Linked DNA regions of Homo sapiens. The protein of the gene in region 1 interacts with the protein of each later gene in a biochemical or structural test. Each region holds a gene or a part of one and is shown on either strand. Other genes may lie near its edges.

Region 1 (7,019 bases):
CTGCTCCTGTACCAACACCAAGGCGGATGGGGAGGTTCCCGGGACCTCCTCAGACCTTTTCTCGGGCTCAGAGTCATTGTCTGAGAAGTACGCAGAGTCTCGGTATGAACCCTGGGAGCCAGCTGTGAACGTCTCAGGGGTCACTTCTGTGCCTCTGTGACCATCGCCGGCATCTGAGATGACAATGACCGGGTTGGGAGGCAGACCGCTGTGGCCGCCATCGCCCGTGGTGGCTGGTTCTGAGTCTGCGGTGCCCTCGGGAGCGGGATGCAAGGTCCACTCGGGAGACTCCAAGTTCTCTGTTTCGTAGCCACTGTCTGCCGGCTTATCGGGGGGCACTAGTTTCTGGGGAGTGTGAGATCCTAAAGAGTCCAGTAGCGCTTCGTGGACATCCACTGACTCCAGAGAGTCCGGGGTTTCCAGGGACGGCTCAGAGGCTGGGAAGGGTGCTGACAAGCTGTCCTCCAGGAGGCTGTCCTGACTGGTTGAGTCCGAGGAGAGGGCAGACACCAAGCCTGCTTCTTTTGCTGCGTCTTTAGAATTGAGCTGATTTAAAGTCTCCACAGCCTCTAAGTTTTTCTCTAGCCGGCGATGACTGTGATGGTCTTCCGAAAATGGTTTATTGTGCAATTCCTGTCCCAGTTCCGGGAGACTACTCCCTACACTCACCCTGCTGGCAAGGATGTCATCAGCAAGAACAGAGTCACTTTCGGTGAGTCGCAGGGTCTCCTCACTCTCGCCAGGAGAGTCCTGGGACCTGTTATCCAGGCTGTGGGTTCTGGCATCAGTTGAGAGAATTTCAACCGGGACAGTCACAGCGTCTGGACTGATGTCCTGGTGGAGACAGTCCTCCGGGACAATAACATCTAAACACGTGGGCTGGGTTTCTCCCTGTGTTGGGAGTGAGTCTGGGGGTACCCGACGGGGCGTTTCTTCTGTTTCGAAGGAGGTAGGAGGTACCTGCACTTCCGGGGAAGACTGCAATGAGGTGCTCAAAGTGTCACCTGTGAGCATGACATCTGTATCGTCACCCTTTGTGCTTACGTTTTCCTGCAACAAAGACAAGCCTGGCTTATTTTCAGCAAACTGAAGCTCAGTATCTAAAGAGTTTCTACATGACGTTTCTAACATAGCTTCAGTAAAACCAGCATTCTTAAGTTCTGTCTGAAGATCATTTATGTGTTCTTTGCTGGACAATGAGCCTTTTAGTAAGTTTTTCTCTTGAAGAAATAAAAAGTTTTCTGACAATTCTTGAACATTCAATGGATCAAAATTATCTTGGTGCATAAGATTATCTGATAGGCAGAGAGGCTCACTGTCAAAAATCTTACGGGGCTTTTCTTTCTCAAAGTGGCCTGTTATGACTGACTCTTTGGGGTTATCCAAACTGGAACTTAAAGTGGCAGGTTTAAAGTCGGCTTGAACTCCGTTTAATTCCATTAAGTCGAATATTTTTTGGTGACTGGGCAAATCTTCCGATTTGTCCACATCATTAAATATATTGTTGAAAGGGCTCTCGGGGCCACTGGTCACGTGTAAGTCCCCTGGTAAGCTAGAGTCTTTGGGGTCTGTACTGCTTTGGAAGAAGTCCTCATCTGTACTGGACTCCTCAAGTTCAACGCTCCTGAGCGCCGTGAGCTGGGACAGTTCAGGGCCAGTCCTTTCTGGATTATCCATGTCGGTTGTGAGCAGCGCTGGTGGGTAATCAAGCTCCAAGTTACTACCACTTTTTTCTTCTAACTGGATATAATAGTCGCTTCCAACAGAAAGGTTGTGGGCATCAAAAACAGGAACCACTCCAGGGACCCTCAGGGGGACATCCTGGCCGCTGTCATCTTGCTTTCCGGGCCCAGGATCTGAAAGCGAACTCTCAAAAACTTCAACCGGATAGAAGATGCTCGTGTAGGACAAGCCTTCGTCCAGGTGGCCCCGGCTGCGCTCGTCAAAGTGGTCGTGCTTAGCGGCCTCCCAGACATACTCGAAGCTCAGGCCCTGGCTGGTTTCGGTCACGGTGAGGACTTCCTCCATTTCACGACCCAGCCGGTCCCTGGCAAAGTGGTCGAGAATTGGGAATGCAGCATTGTTGGAGGAGTCTCTGCTGTTTGTGTTCGGCTTCAGAGCGTTCCACTGCTGTTCAAAGTCGACCTCTGAGTCCCGCTGGCTCTGCAGCCGCAGGTAAGTCAGCAGCCTGTGCACATCTTCAGCCGCGGGTCTCTTTTCTGGTGACAGCCAACAGAACTGTAAGACTTCATACCTGAGCAGCACACGACAAGCAATCAGTGGAACCATCACGAATTTTTTTTTTTTTTTTGGTTCGAGACGGAGTCTTGCTCTGTCACCCAGTCTGGAGTGCAGTGGCATGATCCCGGCTCACTGCAACCTCTGCCTCCTGGGTTCAAGCAATTCTCTTGCCTCAGCCTCCCGAGCAGCTGGGATTACAGGCGCCCGCTGCCGCGCCCAGCTAATTTTTGTATTTTTAGTACAGACGGGGTTTCACCATGTTGGCCAGGCTGGTCTTGAACTCCTCACCTCGTGATCTGCCCACCTCAGCCTCCCAAAGTGCTGGGATTACAGGGATGAGCCATTGTGCCTGGCCGAATCAGTTAAAAATATCAAAAGAGGCCAGGCACCCTGGCTCACACTTGTAATCCTGGGGCAATGGGAGGCTGAAGTGGGAGGATCACTTGAGCCAGGAGTTCAAGAACAGCCTGGGCAACATACTGAGACCCTGTCTCTACATTTTTTTTTAAATAAAAATAAATAAATAAACAATATGAAAAGAATTTACAAGGACCCTAAAGCCAACTCAACACCCGAAACATTTCTACACCTTCATCACTGCCAACCACATTAAGTAGTTCAGCTCATGGTGACATCATGGTGAAAGAGGAAATGAAGAAACATAATATTTGGCCCACGAATTTTTTTGTGTTTTGGGGACACCTCACAGTGAAGACGAAACAGAACAGGCGGAATGTGAGGCTACCAACCATCTATCAGAGTAGGGCTGCTCCAGCTGGGGCTTCGGGAGTTTTGTGTCTCTCTCTCTAATGACTTGGTTGAGGACATCTAAGTTGGAAAGGTTTGAATACGGCTGTGCGGCATTGTCAAAAAGCTCCCAAAGTGTCACACCCAGAGACCTGTTGGAAAAAGAAAATGGCTGTTTCTCTCTCCCTTTAGATGTCAAATTTTTAACACTCATACTTGTTACATAGCCAGTAATTTTAAGGACAAGGTGTGTATTGAAAAGATTATTAATAGGATCTTTGTTGTTGTTGTTGTTGTTTTAAGACAGAGTCTCACTGTCGCCCAGGCTGGAGTGCAATGGTGTGATCTCCACTCACTGCAACCTCTGCCTCCCGGGTTCAAGTGATTCTCCTGCCTCAGCCTCCCAAGTAACTGGGATTACAGGCACAAGCCATCATGCCCTGCCAATTTTTATAATTTTAGTAGAGATAGGGTTTCACCACGTTGGCCAGGCTGCTCTCAAAGTCCTGACCTCAGGTGATCCACCTGCCTTGGCCTTCCAAAGTGCTGAGATTACAGGCGTGAGCCACCACAACCAGCCAAGATTGTTCTTTAATCTGAAACCAATAATCAACAGCACAATAGCAAAAAAAGAGGCATTTCTGTTAAAATGAGGAAGACCATGCCTCCTATTTGCTACTGAATACCACCCTAGAAGTTTTGGCCAATGAAAAAAGTACAAAACAGAGATAATAGGTGTAATTATGTGGATGAGATGACTATCAACTTTTAAGTACTCAATAAATTATTGGAAAGACCATCAGAATGTTCTAAAAATTTGGCAGAATTGCTGGAAACAAGATAAATACCCTGAATTCTGATTTTTTTTTTTTGGTAGAAAAATACACCTATTAACAACATTAGTAAACACCAGAAACCATCTAAAAGGAATCTTTACATGGGCAAGACGATATCCTCTCTGTGAGACCCACAAGTTTGGTTTGAGTTACTCCTCAGTATCGTGGGTTTTGCTGCTATTCTGAAGGGATCCCCCATCACGCTGGCAGCTGTGTGCCAGGAGAGACCCTGAGGGCTGCCTCACCACAGCAGGAACGCCCTTCTCAGTCCCAGCCCAATCCTCTCTCACACTGCGGTGCTCTGTCCCCATGGAAACAGCCTCTGCTGGCTTCCTGGGTCAGAGGAGCTGCCTCTCATTTCCTCCACGAGGTCTCTGCATTTCCTCCCCACCACGCACTGCCTCCATCCCGCATTTGTGTCTATTTACTGCAATGTTCCCGAACGTGACTCTCATCTGTGTCCTCTGGGAAGCCGTGAACACACACACTGCTAGGTCAGATCCACCCCTAAAGGATGCTTAGTTGGTAGATCCAGGTGTGGCCTAGAAAACTCACGTTTTAAAAAGTTCCCCAGTGATTCTGATGTCCAGCTAACCCTCCACGACACGCCCCAAACAACAAAGAAGCAACTACATTTTGACAAAAATCACTAAAGGAGAGCACCAGAGCCCATCAAAGGAGTAACAGGTACTCAGGAGATTCAGGACAGCCACAGCGAGAGCGGAAGGAAACGCCTGGCCTCCACCACCCCATCCCTGGCAGGCGCAGCCAGGAACCAGGAGCAACTTTCTCTTCCAGGTAAGGGCAAGTAAGAGGATCTCACTGTGGACCCCTACATCCTCACACTGCTCACCGTGGACACTACAGTCCTCACACTGGGGTCGCCTGGGGTCCTCACAGGCAGTAAGCCCAGCTGAAGAATTCAATAAATGAAATAAAAAGAAATACAGAACTTCAACAACAGACTCAAGCAGAAGAACCTCTCAACTTGAAGAAAGGTTGTTTGAAATCACCCAGTCAGAGGGAAAAAGACAGAAGAATGAAAAGGAGTGAAGGGAGGCTTCAGGGCTTATGGGAGACTACAGTGCAAACAAATACACACATTATGGGAGTTACAGAAATAAAAGAGCTAGGAGAAGGCAGAGAAAGGCTATTTAAGGAAAGAACAGCTTAAAAACTTCCCAAGTCTTGGGAGAGATACAGACATCCAGATCCAGGAAGCTCAAAGGTCCTTAAAATACAATCAACCCCAAAAGGTCATTTCAGAGGCACATTATAGTCAAATTGTCAAAAGCCAAAGACAAAGATAAAAATTCTAAAAACAGCCAGAGAAAAGCATTAAGTCACATAGGAGGGAAGCAGAGAATAGGATGGTATACTCAAAGTACTGAAATTGGCAGCCAAGAACACTATGCCCTGCAAAGATATCCTTCGGAAATGAAGGAGGGTTGGGCGCGATGGCTCATGACTATAATCCCAGCACTCTAGGAGACTAAGGCATGAGGATTGCTTGGGGCCAGGAGTTCAAGACCAGCCTGGGCAACACAGCATGACCTCGTCTCTACTAAAAAAATATATATAATAATAACTTTTTTTAAAAAATGGAGAAATAAAGTCTTTCCCAGATAAGCAAAAACTGAAGGAATTCATCATTATGAGACATGCCTTAAGAGAAATGGTCCAGGAGTCCTGTATCTGGAAGCTAAAGGAGGATAACCATCAACATGAAAAAACACAGAAGTATCAGACTCACGATACACTAGGTAGAGCAGATACACAAGGGGGAAAGAAAAAGGAAGAAAACCTCATCACTCGTGGAAGATAAAAAGGTTGATCTCATAGAAGTAGAGAGTAGAAGAGTGATTACTTGAGGCAGGGAAGGGGAGGGAGAGGAGGAATAGTGAGAAGCTGACTAACGAATACAAAATTTCGGCTGGGAAGGAGGAATAAGATCTAGTGTTCTAAAGCACTGAAGGGTGACTATAATTAACAACAAATTTTTGTATATTTTCAAACAGCTCTAAGAGCGGCTTTTGAATGTTCCCAAAAACAAAAAGAAAAAATGATACATGTCTGGAGTGAAGGGGATACTAGTTACCCTGATTTGATCATCACACACTGTATATAGGTATCAAAATATTACACTGGGCCAGGTGCGGTGGCTCACGCCTGTAATCCCAGTACTTTGGGAGGACGAGGCAGGCGGATCACTTGAGTTCAGGAGTTCGAGACCAGCCATGGCAAAACTCCATCTCTACTAAAAGTACAAAAATGGTGTGGTAGTACATATTGGTAATCCCAATTACTCGGGAGGCTGAGGCACAAGAATTACTTGAACCAGGGAGGTGGACACTGCAGTGAGCCGTGAGCCGAGACTACACCACTGTACTCCAGCCTGGGCGACAGTGAGACTCTATCTCAAAACAACAACAACAACAACAACAACAAAAACATATATATATATCACTGTACCCCATAAATATGTCCAATTATATGCATCAATGAAAAAAATAATAAAAGCAAAAAAATTGTTTTAAAGAAATCAATCCAAAAGAAAGCAAGGAGAGAAAAAAAAAAGCAGGACAACAGCACATAAAACATAGCTATAAATTAAGAAGGCTGTGACAGAAATTGTTAGTCAAAGTTTTAGGTGCATCTTTTTAGCTCCCATTAAACTGACTCCTATAAATCATAGTATAAACATGATAGTCCACACCCCTTTCAGTTTCTTCTTTCACTTCAATAAATACATATTAAATATCTATTACATGTCAGGCCCTGTGGGAGGCACAGAATATGAAACAGACTTGGTTCCTGCTTTTCTAAAGGAAAATGGGTAGCAGGGGCAGTATTCAAAACGTTAACTCCATCACCACAATTGTGATAATTACTATTTGTGTCTTTTAAACTGTCTTTTTCACACCATCAGATACTCTTTTGTTCCTACATCTTATACAACTACTTTCCTTTAAGGAAGTACTCAAAGAGGAAGAAGTTAGGACTTTGCCAAAGAAATGACTAATAAAACGGTAAGCCAATACGTACCAGATATTACTATACTTAGTCTGATCTGCAGTTAGCAGTCTGTCTTGAAAGCTGGTTACTAATTCTGGAGCAGTCCATCGCAGAGGGAAAACTTTTTTATCATCTGTTTCAATATAATCCTCCTGTTTTGTTAGAAAGCACACAGAATTT
Region 2 (7,811 bases), on another chromosome or scaffold:
TTTTCGTGGCCTATTTAGGGTCCTTTCCTGCATTTTTGTTGGTGAATCTGGTGTGTAAAATGGCTCCCAAGTGTAAAGGGCTATTTGGTATTGGCTGAATTTGTGGAGGGGGCCAACTGTATATTTATTGTTTCTGTTCAAAGAGGATCTCATAAAGTTTGCATGACTTGTGACAAATAATAATGTATATTTGGTATGGTTTGAACGTTTGTCCTCTCTGAAACTCACGTTGAAACTTGATCTCCAATGTGGCAGTGTGGAGAGGCACAGCTTTTAAAAGGTGACTGGGTCATGAGGGCTCTGCTCTGATGAATGGATTAATCTATTCACGGATTAATGGGTTATCAAGTGAGTGGTTCTGGTGGCTTTATAAGAAGAGGAAGAGAGACCTGAGCTGGCACGCTCAGCTTCCTTGCCATGTGATGCCCTGCACCACCTTGGAACTCCACAGAGTCCCCACCAGCAAAAACGCTCTCACCAGATGCACCCTTAAGACCCTGGACTTCCAAGCCTCCAGAACCGTAAGAAATAAATTCAGTTTCTTATAAATTATCATTTCAGACATTCTGTTATGACCAACAGAAAACAGACTAAGACTATATTGTATTACTAGTAGAATTAGTTTATTTGCTTTACAGTCACATAACAAGGATCATTAAAAAACCCATCCTTTTTACCACTTGGAACCAAACATCATGAACTTCAATGAATTAGGGTTTGATAGTTCTCTTTAAAGACAGGACTGTAACTCTAACTCGACAGGTCAGTCCCTTTTAAGTGAATCTACCCTGCCACAGATACTACAGAAGAGGCAGCCCTATGCAGTTGAGTCAGTCTAGTATAGTGGCTTTTGAGGCAGAAAGACCTGAATGTAAATCCCAACCAATTACAGAAAGAAAGAGGCCAATCCATAGATTGGGCCCACGGGAAATTACAGCAGATCCAAGTTAAGAATAAACAGAAACTAAAGAAGCAGAGATAAAGAGTAACTCACTTGGTAAATGGACCAAAAGAAACTCACACTGGAGAACAGCTAAATAACATAAATGCCAGTAAGGACCACATTCCTGCTGCTGAAAACCCTGAAGCTACATTTGAGCCTTCTGTAGTTACGTTACTTATCTTTTAATTCCTTTTCTTTTCTTTCCTTTTTTTTTTTTTTTTTTTTTTTAAGAGATGAGGTCTCATTATGTTGCCCAGGCTGGTCTCAAACTCCTGGGATCAAGCAATCCTCCCACCTTGGCCTCTCCAAGTGCTGAGATTACAGGCGTGAGCCACCACGCCTGGATGTTATTTATCTTTTAACTAACTTGGTTCTCCTGCTTCAGTTATGTTCTGGTGAAATTCTGTCTTCTTAATTCCATGACCTACACATCACACTCCCCCAGCACTCCATTTAACGTGGCTTAGCCCAAAGAAGTTGGAAAATTGTGTGTGAGAGAATGTAAGATTCAAGCATCCATGAGCGTGGGAGTTGCTAGACAAAAACTAAGGTCCTTTCCAGCCCCAAAAGGCCACGATTCTAACCTATGAACCTACTCAATATTTCCTTCAAGGTAACACAAATCCCTAAAATTTACCACCACCAAGCAGTAGTTCCTTTTATGGTCCTAAATAAGATCCTTTATCCAGGAATGCCCTAGGTTCCTATATTCTGAGATTTCACAAACATCCTCATTTTAGCTTCTGACTACCAATTTCAATGGTAACTTTTCTTAAGCCTTATTTTCAGAAAGTAGAGTCCTTCTATTTTTAGTATCTTGCAACGCCCAAGCCCCCGTGCACTTCTAACCCACTACAGATACTGTACTGCAACATTTTCTCCGTGCATAAACGCCTACCTTTCTTTTTTTAAAGGCTAGTATATTGTTCCATTATACAAACGTACCGTAATTAATATTTCACCAGCTCTTACTAATGGACTTCCGGTCGTTTCCAATTATATTATAAATATTACATACAATGCTCAGGTCAACAACTTTTTACATGTGTATCTTTAGCGTATGCAAGAGCAACTAAATTACCACTGGGTCATTTCAAGTTGCTCCTCTTTGAACTGTTTTGAGCTTAGATCTATCTCTGAACAGGAACAAAAACTAGAAAGCACCCAAAACTCTGGTTGCAGATGCAGAAATACAGTGTGGCACAATGCTAATGGGGGAAATGGTCTCTTCTTTGACGGATCGCCTATTAGCTTGAGACTAGATCTTAAAGGGTTCCCAAAGCAAGAAAATACACTGTAATTATCGAAGAATTTTAGATACCTCAGAGATGAGGTTAAGAAATAGTAAAAGCTTAACAGTCGAAGATCTGAAGCTTCAATTTCATTCTTTGATGTTCCCGATTACAGAAAGTTCAAAGATGATGTTTAAAAATATTATATATGCCCAAATGCTTAAAAAAAAAAAAGGAAGCATGATAAACGTCATCGCCCAGCCTTCTTAAAGATCGCTCCCACCCGCGGCTAGCCGGGCAGGAGAAGAGACTCGAGCGGCACCCGAGCCGCATCCACGCCGCCCGCCCGCCCCTGGGGTCTGGGTAGGTAACGGGCCCGGCGGGAAGGAGGGGCTCCCAGGCCGTCCCTCCCAGCGCTCACCTCAGCTCCTCGTCGACATTCCCGCGGGGCTGTTCGGCCGACGCCACCATAGAGGAAGTCGTAGAGGTCTTGTTCTTCAAGATCCCCTTGATGGGCCGGTGCGAGGCCGTCGAGGCCGCCATTGCCGGGCGCTCCGGCTGTCGGCTCAGGGTCGCTGCTTGGCGTGGGGTCCGCGAAGAGAAGGGTCGGCACAGCAGAGACTCGCAGGCAGCCGCAGATCCCGCTCAGGGCTAAAGCGGCCGCAACTGCTGCCTCGGAAACGGCTACCGCAGCGGTTGTCACGACACAACGACCCCGACGCCAGAGCCAACGCCGAACGGGTGGCGGCTACTCGCGCACCCTTAGCCACTGGCACTTGACCCGCGGCTCGCGGAGAGACGCCGGCCTAGAGCTCCAGCGCAGGAGCGACGCGACGCCGAAGCCAAGCGGACCCGCCCTCTCGCGATATCTAGGGAGGAGGCGGGGAGAGGGCGGGGCGAGAACAAAGCCGACCTCCTCGCCCCGCCCCCTCCGTCCCGCCCGGGCTGCTCGCCCCGCCCCCGCGCGGCGCTGGGAGGCGGGAGCTGTCTCTGAGAACCTGCGGGAGAGCGCCCGGGCTTGCTGCTTCCCGGACCCGCGCGTCTCTCGAGCACCCTCGTCCCACCACCTTGTGAGGCCGTAGTGTTATTTTTATTTTTTAGATCAGCAGACTGAGACTCGAGGTGACGTCACTCCGCAGAGAGGTTAGCTGACTTGAAGAAAACGGGTATCTCCTCTTTCCATTTCGCCCGTGTAAACAGCCGAACTGCCTATTATAAAAGCATGGACTGCCAGCATTGGAGTGGTCCTTAGAGGCCTATTATGAAATCATAGAATGTCTGCATTGGAATCGCCTCACCTCCTTTTACCGCTGGAGAAGCCGACGGACAGACGGGCAGCGACCCCCGCCGTCGCACAACCCGTCTAGGCAGAGAGCGCAGGAGACGGGAGGGCGGCAGGGACACATCTCCCAGCCAAGGACCTCCTGGGCCCGCAGAGGCCGCGACAGGTTCCCCCCACAGAGGGAACCAACTCTGCCGCAGGTTGATGTGGACTTCAAGCCTGCAGAACGGAGAGCCCATTTCCATTGCTTAAAGCCACCTCGTGTGTGGTATTTGTTATGGTCCCTGTACACTCCCTTCCCTCCCTCTCCCAAGTCCAGTCCGCAGCTCGCTCATCACCAGGCTCTTTTCCATGACTCTTTCTTGATCAGGCCTTTTTATCGTCCTCACCACAGGTTAGAGCACAGCAGACTGAGCCACCCAGAACTGGCCCCTCCGGTGGACCAGCCCCTGCGGATTCACAGACCACTGGTCCTGGAAGGGACCTTGTCAAGCAGGCCCATAAGGTGGCTATTCAGCCTGTTTCTCCAACAACCCCAGGGGCTAGAAGCCCGCCACACCCCCGTGTAACTCATTTTGTTTTTGGACAGCTCTGACTCTGGGAGTTCTTAGATTGAGCTGACACCTCGCTCCCAGCAATGTCTGTCCACTGCTGTGGGGGGTGAGAGGAAGCGTTTTCCCCTATCTAGCCCCTATAGCAGCAGTTTCACTCCCATGGCTCATCTCTGGACCACAGTCTCATCTTCTTTAACACAGGCTCTGTGCCTTTTGAGGATGACCCTGTTCTGTGTCCTTAGGACTCTGCCCCTCAGGGATGACTGTAGGGTTCTGAAAACGATTGTTTTTATCGTCTGGCCCCGAGCCCCTAGCTCCTAGATGAGTTCCTGGCACAGAACAGGGCCTCAGTATGGGAATGGATGTGGATGGAGATAATGGAGGGGAAGTGAGCTGGAAGGGGAGAAGGGAAACAGGGTTGCTGGTCACAGAGTGGAATGTGTTCCCCAGGGATTTGCCTCAGCCAGGGGCCTGCACAGTCACTGTTGGCACTGTCCCCACCTTTGTTCCCAGTCAAATATCCACTGGTGCCGTCTCTCCCTCCCAGGCCAGGACTGCTCAGTGGATCTAACATTACACCCTGACAGCCCTGTCCAGCCCATGGAGCAGAGAGAGAGGGTTCTCAGCGAGGGGAAGCAGGATGGCCACCTCCCTTCCCTTCCTGAGTTCTTTCCACCCCAGTGTTCAACACCTGTGTTGCGTCTCCTGCCCTGTCAGCAGGAGTCTAGGTCAGTGATGGCAATCCTGTTTTCAAGGGAATACACAAACTTCCCTGTATGTTCCAAATTATTGGGCAGATTTGCTTTGTTCCTGCTTGGGCTGGGAAGCATCACTGAGTTCAGCATCCCTGAACTCAACTGTGACTGGGCCCTTGATTAAGCAACAGCTTGCTTTCAGACCCTCTAATGAAAGGGACTACGATCGTATGACATAAAGTGTTTTATTAGTTAATTAACTAACAAACATTGGAACAGGAGGTGATGAAGAGTTCTCTGAAGAACCTTGGAAACATATTTCCCTCATCAAGAGTTAAACTTTTGTCTCCTGTACTGGTTCTTCCACTCCCAAACCCACAACAAATGAATGCAGATGAAGATGACTTTGGTAGCACTTAAAAAAAAATAGTTTGTAAAATTGTGAGGGCCAGTACTGCTTTTTTTTTTTTTTTTTTTGAGACAAAGTCTTGCTCTGTCGCCCAGGCTGGAATGCAATGGCACAATCTCCACTCACTGCAACCTCTGCCTCCTGGGTTCAAGTGATTCTCCTGCCTCAGCCTCCCGAGTAGCTGGGACTACAGGTGCCTGCCACCACACCCAGCTAATTTTTGTATTTTTAGTAGAGATGGGGTTTCATCATGTTGGCCAGGCTTGTCTCAAACTTCTGACCTCAGGTGATCTGCCCGCCTCAGCCTCCCAAAGTGCTGGGATTATAGGCATGAGCCACCACACATGGCCTGCTTTTCCTTATCTTTCAGAATAGTTGAACTACTTTATTCCTCAGTGTGGCCCAAATAAGATTTTCAAATGCCTCTAAACAGAGCTCTCCTTCTGTGCCTCTGCTGAGGTTTGCTCCTGTAGGAAGTTATCTGGACCAAACAGCCCGAGCACTGAATTTAGCTGTATTGCTGTTACATTTCCTGTGTGTTGAGGGTTTGGCTGCCAGGAGGTGAATTGTAGATAGAATCTTTCATTCTGGTTTCAGTTTCTGGAAGTAGCTATTGAGCTCAAGGCAAATCATATATTTAAAGATATATACATGATTTAAGGATAATCTGGCATTTATCTCTGCTCTCTTTTTGAAGACTTCATTATCATGGTTGCCTGACCCAACACAACATATTTGGAGGAGGAGAGGGGACACTTTTATTGTACCCCATCACGTGGCTGAGTCATTTGGCTCTCCATTCACTGGAACAGACGACTATGGACACCACCATTGGGTTTCCCACCAAGGACAGAGTTCCAAAGCAACAGTGGCTTCCATGGTTGGCTCACCCAGCCTGCCTGAGTCATCAGCTAGGTCCACAGAGTAGAGAAGTGGGTAGTGCCCCCGCCTAACATCTGGAAAAATTCCCAAAAGTTGTGACTTCATGACCACTGAGTCAGCAGCAACTCTTTTCTTGCCAAGAATAGCACATTGTTCTTTTCCTTTTCAGGTAATCCCTCCCCGGAAAGAGAAGATCACAGATTTTGTCATATTAAATACATTGTAGAAATTCATGGTAGCAGGGGCAAGATCATTTAAACAAAACAGAAAGTTTCAGAGAGAGAAAAAGCCAAGGACAAAGATTAATCATTTTTCTGCTTAAAAAAAATGGCTTTGATTTGCAACCATGGAATGCTCCACTGTTTCTCTTCTCTTCAAAGACATCTACTGAAAGGATTCCTTAACCTTACCAAGTGGCCAAAATACTTTTCTGAGAAGAGTCACAGAGCATAGGCCCCCCTAGGGTACACAGAGATTTCATTAGTCCCTAGATGTTTCCTGATCCTTTTAAAAACTGGTTAAATTCAGAGACTCTAGGCAATTACTTCTTTCAGAACCTGTGAGGCAAAAACGAAAGAAGAAGGCAGGACACGCAGTGTAACAAACCTTGGAATGGTAAGTAGGAAATATGAGTTAGTTTTTTGGCTAAGCTATGAATTTACCTTGTGCCTGCCAGAAATCACTCAGTCTTTTGTGACTGTAAATTTTCTGTAAGTGTTAATTGGTTTGGTTTATTATTGCAAGAAGCAAGGGAGCAATGTTGTGTATTATAATTTCATTGTGTCAATTTTGCCAAATTATCTTGCATTTTGTTATTCTATGAACTCATAATGGGATAAGGAGTATAGGCTTTGATTCAGAACATATGTGATGTTGCTATAAATGCTTCATGGAAAACCCTAAATATATTTTGAAGCCTACATAGTCAAAAGTCACCATTGGAAGACTTTTTTACTTTACTATTGTATTTATGCTCGTTAGCACTCATTCTTGTTTGAAACGTCTCAAATGCGTAATTTTATTATTTTATTTGTTGTCTCCAGATTGGTCTGAGGACTCCGCTTTCTTCACTGCCCATTCATCTTCATACTGTTCTCATATTTTTTTTTAAATTGGGATATGCAATGATCCTTAGTTTATAAATTCAACTCCACTTTGCCACACACAGTGTTACGCTTGGGGAAACAATTAGAACTTGCCCTTCTTGGCCAGGCGCGGTGGCTCCCGCCTGTGATCCCAGCACTTTGGGAGGCCAAGGTGGGCAGATCACGAGGTCAAGAGATGGAGACCATCCTGGCCAACATGGTGAAACCCCGTCTCTACTAAAAATACAAAAATTAGCTGGGCATGGTGGCGCGCGCCTGTAGTCCCAGCTATTTGGGAGGCTGAGGCAGGAGAATCGCTTGAACCCGGGAGGCAGTGGTTGCAGTGAGATTGCGCCGCTGCACTCCAGCCTGGTGACAGAGCAAGACTCCATCTCAAAAAAAAAAAAAAAAAAAAAGAACTTGCCCCTCTTTTTTTTTTTTTGCTCAAGGAACTCAGTCTGCCGTGGTTGCTCATTGTCTAGGATGAAGTCCAAATCCCTTGGGCCTTCACAATCCAGCCCTGTCTGTTCTTCTAGTCTCCTTCTCTTTTTACATCCACTTGCTTTCTGCTATGTTCTTCACACTAGTCACACTGCCCTTCTCAGGGTGTCAGAGCAACCTATATTCTGTCCCTTTTTCATGCCTTTACTAATCTATGTGAAATACCATCCCCTATTCTTGCTTTTAAATTACCCCAGTTCAAAGGTCATCTCCTTCTCCGACTCCACG

What was found.
Region 2: of the proteins of LMTK2 (region 1) and PPP1R2, one has a biochemical effect on the other in vitro, tested with the Homo sapiens proteins (one study listed by IntAct).

The regions. Positions count from the first base shown.
Region 1 is NC_000007.14:98,186,849-98,193,867, reverse strand, and holds part of LMTK2 (serine/threonine-protein kinase LMTK2 precursor), read right to left. Parts: intron 6,992-7,019; coding exon 6,870-6,991; intron 3,141-6,869; coding exon 2,991-3,140; intron 2,255-2,990; coding exon 1-2,254. UniProt on the Homo sapiens protein: Phosphorylates PPP1C, phosphorylase b and CFTR.
Region 2 is NC_000003.12:195,540,308-195,548,118, forward strand, and holds the start of PPP1R2 (protein phosphatase inhibitor 2), read right to left. Parts: upstream 3,019-7,811; 5' UTR 2,719-3,018; coding exon 2,597-2,718; intron 1-2,596. UniProt on the Homo sapiens protein: Inhibitor of protein-phosphatase 1.